2 linked regions of the Homo sapiens genome follow. The protein of the gene in region 1 purifies or fractionates together with the protein of each later gene. This does not show direct contact. Each region holds a gene or a part of one and is shown in the gene's direction. Other genes may lie near its edges.

What was found. The genes of interacting proteins can lie anywhere in the genome.
Region 2: the proteins of ACAT1 (region 1) and ERCC2 fractionate together in Homo sapiens (co-fractionation; one large-scale study listed by BioGRID). This does not show direct contact.

Annotation. Positions count from the first base shown.
Region 1 is NC_000011.10:108,138,496-108,142,142, forward strand, and holds part of ACAT1 (acetyl-CoA acetyltransferase, mitochondrial isoform b precursor), read left to right. Parts: intron 1-402; coding exon 403-546; intron 547-1,569; coding exon 1,570-1,720; intron 1,721-3,109; coding exon 3,110-3,205; intron 3,206-3,647. UniProt on the Homo sapiens protein: This is one of the enzymes that catalyzes the last step of the mitochondrial beta-oxidation pathway, an aerobic process breaking down fatty acids into acetyl-CoA.
Region 2 is NC_000019.10:45,360,427-45,364,073, reverse strand, and holds part of ERCC2 (general transcription and DNA repair factor IIH helicase subunit XPD), read left to right. Parts: coding exon 1-88; intron 89-162; coding exon 163-331; intron 332-2,431; coding exon 2,432-2,550; intron 2,551-3,647. UniProt on the Homo sapiens protein: ATP-dependent 5'-3' DNA helicase. Component of the general transcription and DNA repair factor IIH (TFIIH) core complex, not absolutely essential for minimal transcription in vitro.

The DNA of each region.
Region 1 (3,647 bases):
AAGCAATCCTCCTGCCTTGGCCTCCCGAGTAGCTGGGATTAGAAGTGCCCACCACCACACCCAGCTAATTTTTGTATTTTTAGTAGAGACGGGGTTTCACCATGTTGGCCAGGCGGATCCAGAACTCCTGACCTCAAGTGATCCACCTGCCTCAGCCTTCTAAAGTGCTGGGATTACAGGTGTGAGCCACTGCACCCAGCCAACTTATTTCTCATTATATTATTTAACACCATTTCTTTTCATCAGGGTGAAGTGGTAAAGAGGGTACTTCCTGTATTCACTGTGTAACAAATGTTTAATAAATGCATGTAGAATACTTGTTTGGTGGTAGCTGTATAAAGGGTGTCATGGGTTTGCAAAATATTTGTATTAACATTGGGTTTTTCTGGTGTTTCTGCGCAGGATGTGATGGTGGCAGGTGGGATGGAGAGCATGTCCAATGTTCCATATGTAATGAACAGAGGATCAACACCATATGGTGGGGTAAAGCTTGAAGATTTGATTGTAAAAGACGGGCTAACTGATGTCTACAATAAAATTCATATGGTAAATGTGATTTTTAGTGGATAAATGCTATCTAATGTCCAATACTGTTTGATTTTTCTTACTCTATGTACTTTACAAACTGAACTGAAAGATGGGCTCTATAAATGTTGATTTTAGCCGTGTACTTTTGGAGAATATTTTTGTATGCCTATTGCATCGGCATGGCTCAGTCATTAAAGAAATTTTCCCACATTTAAATAGGGTAATTTCTGACGCTTAGCTGGCAACTGCTTGGCTAATTCAAGTATGTGAAGATAAGACATGAGTGGCTGGGTGCGGTGGCTCTGGCCTGTAATCCCAGCACTTTGGGAGGCCGAGGCAGGTGGATCACCTGGGGTCAGGAGTTTGAGACCGGCTTGGCCAATGTGGTGAGACCCTGTCTCTATTAAAAATACAAAAAAATTAGCCAGGCGTGGTGGTGGTGTCTGTAATCCCAGCTACTCAGGAGGCTGAGGCAGGAGAATTGCTTGAACCCGGGAGGTGGAGGTTGCATTGAGCCAAGATTGCACCACTGCACTCCAGCCTGGGTGACAAGAGTCAAACTCCGTCTCAAAAAAAGACATGAGTGAAAAGTGACCTGGTATAGAAAGAAATATATATGTGTGTGTGTATATATATATGTTATTATTATTTTTTTGAAATGGTGTCTTGCTCTGTTGCCCAGGCTGGAGTGCAGTGGCACAGTCTTAGCTCACTGCAGCCTCCGCCTCCTGGGCTCAAGCAATTCTCCTGCCTCAGGCTCCCGAGTAGCTGGGACTACAGGCACGTGCCCCCATGCCCGGCTAATTTTTAGTAGAGACGGGGTTTCACCATGTTGGCCAGGATGGTCTTGATCTCCTGACCTCATGATCTGCCTGCCTTGGCCCCCCAAAGTGCTGGGATTACAGGCATGAGCCACCACCTCCGGCCTAAGAAATATATTTTAAGAAACGTTAACTATTAAACACTATAAGTTAGGCAAAGTTAATAGATATTTTCTAAATTATGCAAAGTTAACTTTAAAATATTTCAACTTTTTATCAGGGCAGCTGTGCTGAGAATACAGCAAAGAAGCTGAATATTGCACGAAATGAACAGGACGCTTATGCTATTAATTCTTATACCAGAAGTAAAGCAGCATGGGAAGCTGGGAAATTTGGAAATGAAGTTATTCCTGTCACAGTTACAGTAAAAGGTAGAGATAATGTTCCAAAAAGGATGAATAGACTTTTCATGTTGCTGAATGTTTTATGCTTAAGTTTTAAATTAGGACATTATCTTGGTTCATTTCAACTGCTTATGGTTAATAAAAAGTGAAGAGTTGCCAGTTCAGAGAGAATATAAATCTACCCAACTTAATGTCAGATTTCAATCCATTTATAAGATCCCTGAGTATTACTTTAAATTTGAGAAATTTATTAGAACTTTTTCCTGTGACAGTCAATACGGTATTTTAAATTGAAAAGGGATTTACTAGAAGGTTACCGGGAGTGCCTCCAAGAACTGAAGGATGAACAGTAGCAACCATTCAGCTCTGGGAACTTCAGGGATTGGAACTGGGTGTTCACTACTACTAAGACATGCTCTCTTGGCTTCTCACACCTGCAGGCTTTTGTGCTTTATTCTCTCAGCCTTTCTAAAGTTGCTGCCTCTACCTCTAGGGTCACATATATAGGGTTCTCAAAAAGGAGAGACTTTCTCACCAGTTCCAGCAGAATAAATCCACAATGAAGACTCATTAACTTGCTTTAGGTTACAATTCTATTCCAGGAATGATTACTGTGCTCTAGGTGACAGAATACTAGAGCTTATCTAGTGTAGGTCAGACAGCTGCCTCTGGGGTCAGGAGAGTGGGGTCTGTGATCATAGAAGGGAGTTGAGGAAGAAAAGGGGACATGGAGGTGTAGAAGATTTAAATTTTGTGGCTGGGTGCAGTGGCTCACACCTGTAATCCCAACACTTTGGGAGGCCGAGGTGGGAGGATTGCTTGAGCCCAGGAGTTTGAGACCAGCCTGGGCAACGAAGTGAGACTTGGCCTCCACACAAAAAAATTAAAAATTAGCTGGGTATAGCAGCACACGCCTGTAGTCCCAGCTACTAGGGAATCCAAGGCAGGAGGATCAATTGAGCCCAGGAGTCCGAGGCTGCAGTGAGCTAGGTTTGTAGCATTGCACTCTATTGGGAGACTGTGCAAGACCATTTCAAACAAACAAAATTAGCTGGCTGTGGTGGCTCCCACCTGTAGTCCCAGCTACTTGGGAGGCTGAGGTGGGAGGATCACATGGGCCTGGAGAGGATGAGGTAAACTGTGATCATGCCAGCCTAAGCAGGAGAGGGAAACCCTGCCTCAAAAAAAAAAAAAAAAAAAAAAAAAATTGTGAAGCTACTTTGTAAGTTTCTCTTTTTAAGATGGTAACATAATAGAGGTTATAGTTAACAGATTCTAGATGAGTGTTTACTTGGGATGGTTTAAGTGAAGCAGGGATACAAAGGGAGGCACAGACTACTAGGCATCTTGTACAACAGTTGCTTGCTGAATGACTACTTGTTTTGAGCGATTTTACTTAAAATATTTTTATTTTAGGTCAACCAGATGTAGTGGTGAAAGAAGATGAAGAATATAAACGTGTTGATTTTAGCAAAGTTCCAAAGCTGAAGACAGTTTTCCAGAAAGAAAATGGTTAGTGTTAAGAAATGAAGCATAAGAAAAAATTGAGCCAGTATACCATATCTAGTTCTTAGAATTGCCTAAGGATTTTGAAAAATTCTAGAAAACATCTAGATGTTATTTAACATTTTCAGTATATCAGGCTCATGTAAAATTGTTTTGGTAGTTTATACCTTCAATATATAAATCCCAGGGAAGATATGTATAACATGACTATAGAATTCAGTTTTTCATATGTAGCAGTCTATGATAGGGTCTTCATTGGCATTGAAAAAAACAGATTTATTGATATAATTTATATACCATAATAACATTCTTCTATTTAAAGTGGTTTGGTAGTTTTTAACATTCATTTATATTTATCTCCAGGTGATTCTAGATAAGAATAAATATCTGATTTGAAAAATATGTAGTGAGTACCTGCTATATATTGAATAAGGAAAGTTAGACCCTG
Region 2 (3,647 bases), on another chromosome or scaffold:
CTGGTGGAGGGGCTGCGGGAGGCCAGCGCCGCCCGGGAGACGGACGCCCACCTGGCCAACCCCGTGCTGCCCGACGAAGTGCTGCAGGGTGAGCCCCGACCCCCCGCTGCCCCCCAGTCCCTTTCCCGCCTCCCCGTCGCCGCTGATAGCGTCTCCTCGCAGAGGCAGTGCCTGGCTCCATCCGCACGGCCGAGCATTTCCTGGGCTTCCTGAGGCGGCTGCTGGAGTACGTGAAGTGGCGGCTGCGTGTGCAGCATGTGGTGCAGGAGAGCCCGCCCGCCTTCCTGAGCGGCCTGGCCCAGCGCGTGTGCATCCAGCGCAAGCCCCTCAGGTGCGGCCCCAGACAGCGCGCGGGGTGGGGGCCCGGCAGGTCCCGGTTATGCAGAGCCGTGTCCTCCACGCCTGTAGCCCCAGGTCACCACTGCAGCATCAGGAGTGAGTGAGCTGGGCGAGGCACGTGGGACCTTGTCTGGTCTGACCTGGGAGGTCCGGGAGCAAGGTTGGAGCTGATCCTGGGTCCGTGCGTCGGGCAGGGGCCTGGCAGGCAACACCTGGCTGGATTGGAGAATCTCCCCCACCCAAGAGAGAGTGGGAGCACCATTTACAGAGGGGCGGGCTGGGGGAGGAGCCAAGGAGGGTGGGAGGTGAGAGCTGGGAGCTAAGCCAGGCCACAGCGGCAGGGAGGGAGTGTGTTGAGAACCAACTGGTGGGGGCCTGGACAGGGGCTTCTGCTGGGAGCAGAAACCAGTACCAGGGCCTCGCAGGCTGGGAGCTGGAGGAGGTGTCCCCGGCCCATGTATCTTCCCACCGATGCCTCTAATCTTCCAAACCTGAGGGCAGGGGCGTCCCCATGGAGTAGTCTGGGCGCATTTTGGGGGAGTCAGTCTCTTGAGGCACAGGGCAGGCAGAGAATGACCAAGGGATACGAGGGGGCTTTTCCTTTGGGTAAGTCATGGGTCTTCTTTGAACTGCAGTTTCCTCCTTTGTAAAATGGCCAAGGAGTCGGGTCTTTACTTCACAGGGTTCTTTGGTGGGTTAATGAGAGAGCAGCGAAGCCAATCACCTACCCTGCCCTGAGCACTAAGGAGGAGCTAAGCCCTTTATGTTCCTTACCTCAGTTGCACCCCCAGTACAGCATCCCCACCCTGCAAATGAGGACACTGGGACTCCCAGAGGGGAAGCCTTTGCCCAGAGCCACACAGCACTGTGCCCGGTAGTTGGGGCTTGAAGCCATGCCTGTGGGCTCCAAAGGCCCTGGCTGCCCTGCCTCTGTGGGTGAGGCCACCTTCCATGTGGGTTTGCCCATCTTCCCCAGGATTGGAGACTTGTGAGGGCAAAGAGGGGATCTCAGTCACTCAACACACATTCCCCAAGTGCCTGCTTCATGCTGGGGACACAGCCGTAGAGGCTCCATGGCCCAGTGGAGGGGACAGACTCATCCTCAGCTAGCGACCAGCCGGGGTAGGCGCCTGGGGTTAGAGGAGCCAGGCTGGGAGGGCTGACGTGCGGGAGGCAGGTTTGCAAGTGTGACTGCCCACCTGGCTTCAAAGCCAGCTGCTCTATGACCCTGCCTCGGCCCTGCCTGTGTGTGGTTGTGGCCGAGTGGCCCTGCACATGCGTGAGTGTGTGGACGTGGTATCCGTGGGACTCTGTGGGATGTGGGTGTTGACTGCATTCCTCTGTGAGCCCATGGGGTTCCGACACCGTGTGTGTCCCCATAGGTGCGTGAGAGGCAGTGGGAGAGGCTCTGGGTGTGAATGCGTGACCATGTGGCCATGCGGGATTAATGCCATGACTGGGGGGTTCTGGGTGTGATTGTGCGTCTCTTGTTTTGATCAGAACCCACTTAGGGCCAGGTGCAGTGGCTCACACCTGTCATCCCAGCACTTTGGGAGGCTGAGGCAGGTGGATCACGAGGTCAGAAGTTCAAGACCAGCCTGGCCAACATAGTGAAAGTCCGTCTCTACTAAAAGTACAAAAATTAGCTGAGTGTGGTGGCAGGCACCTGTAATCCCAGCTACTTGGGAGGCTGAGGCAGGAGAATCATTTGAACCCAGGAGGCGGAGTCGAGATGGTACCAGTGCTCTCCAGCCTGGATGACAGGGCAAGACTCCATCTGAACAAAGAAAAAAAAGAAAAAGAAAAAAAGAACCCACTTAGGAGGTCGTGCTAGCAGGTGTGACAAGTGACCACATGACTCTGGAGTGTCTGATTATTGCTCTGTCTGTGCCATTATGCGGCAATGGCTATTTGTGACATGCAGGTGTACAGCGTGGGGGTGCAAGTTTCCAAAACAGGCCCAGTGCCCACCCTCACTGAGTGCTCATTGGCTGGGGAGACAGGCACGTGACCGTCGTGATGGCGGAGGCAGGGCTGCTGGTCCTGCTCATGCTTCCGTCTGCCCCCCGACCCCGTCTCTCCTCCCCGCCAGATTCTGTGCTGAACGCCTCCGGTCCCTGCTGCATACTCTGGAGATCACCGACCTTGCTGACTTCTCCCCGCTCACCCTCCTTGCTAACTTTGCCACCCTTGTCAGCACCTACGCCAAAGGTAAGCTCACCTTTTTCTGTCCCTGCTGGGCCTCCTAGCAGCTGGAATCAGGGTCCCAGCAGGGTCTAGAGGGTTGTTGGCAGGACACACAGGGCTTTGTGGGGTTTGGCTTGGAAGTGTGGGCCCTATTTTGAAGGCAGTGGGGAGCCATACATAGTTCTTGAGTAAGCCTTGTGCTCAGATTTACATTTTCACAGACTTCCTCGGGCTGCAGAGTGGAGAAGGATGGCATGGGCAGTGGTAAGGGAGGAGGCCAGAGAAATTCTATGGGGTCAGCTCACACTAGAGGGCACGGTAATGAGTTGATCTTTGTGCTCCTGAGGGCACTGGGGAGCCATGGCAGATTCTAGCAAGCAAGGTGCCAGGTCAGATTTGTGCTTTTTTTTTTTTTTTTGAGACGGAGTCTTGCTCTGTTGCCAGGCTGGAGTGCAGTGGTGTGATCTTGGCTCACTGCAGCCTCTGCCTCCTGGGTTCAAGCAATTCTCCTGCCTCAGCCTCCCGAGTATCTGGGACTACAGGCGCATGCCACTATACCCAGCTAATTTTTGTATTTTTAGTAGAGGTGGGGTTTCACCATGTTGGCCAGGACGGTCTCGATCTCCTGACCTCATGATCCACCGGCCTCGGCCTCCCAAAGTGCTGGGATTACAGGCGTGAGCCACCATGCCCGGCCCAGAGTTGTGCTTTGGAAAGATTTCTTCTGGGTGCTGAACGCAGTGGCTCATGCCTGTAATCCCAGCACTTTGGAATGGTTAGGCAGGCAGATGACCTGAGGTCAGGAGTTCGAGACTGGCCTGGTGAACATGGCGAAACCCCATCTTTACTAAAAATACAAAAATTAGCTGGGGCCAGACATGGTGGCTCACGCCCATAATCCCAGCAGTTTGGGGGGCCGAGGTGGGCAGATCACTTGAGGTCAGGAGTTTGAGACCAGCCTGACCAACATGGTGAAACCCTGTCTCTACTAAAAATACAACAATTTGCCAGGTGTGATGGTGGGCTCCTGTAATCCCAGCTACTTGAGAGGCTGAGGCAGGAGAATTGCTTGAGCCCAGGAGGCAGAGGTTACAGTGAGCCAAGATTGTGGCACTGCACTC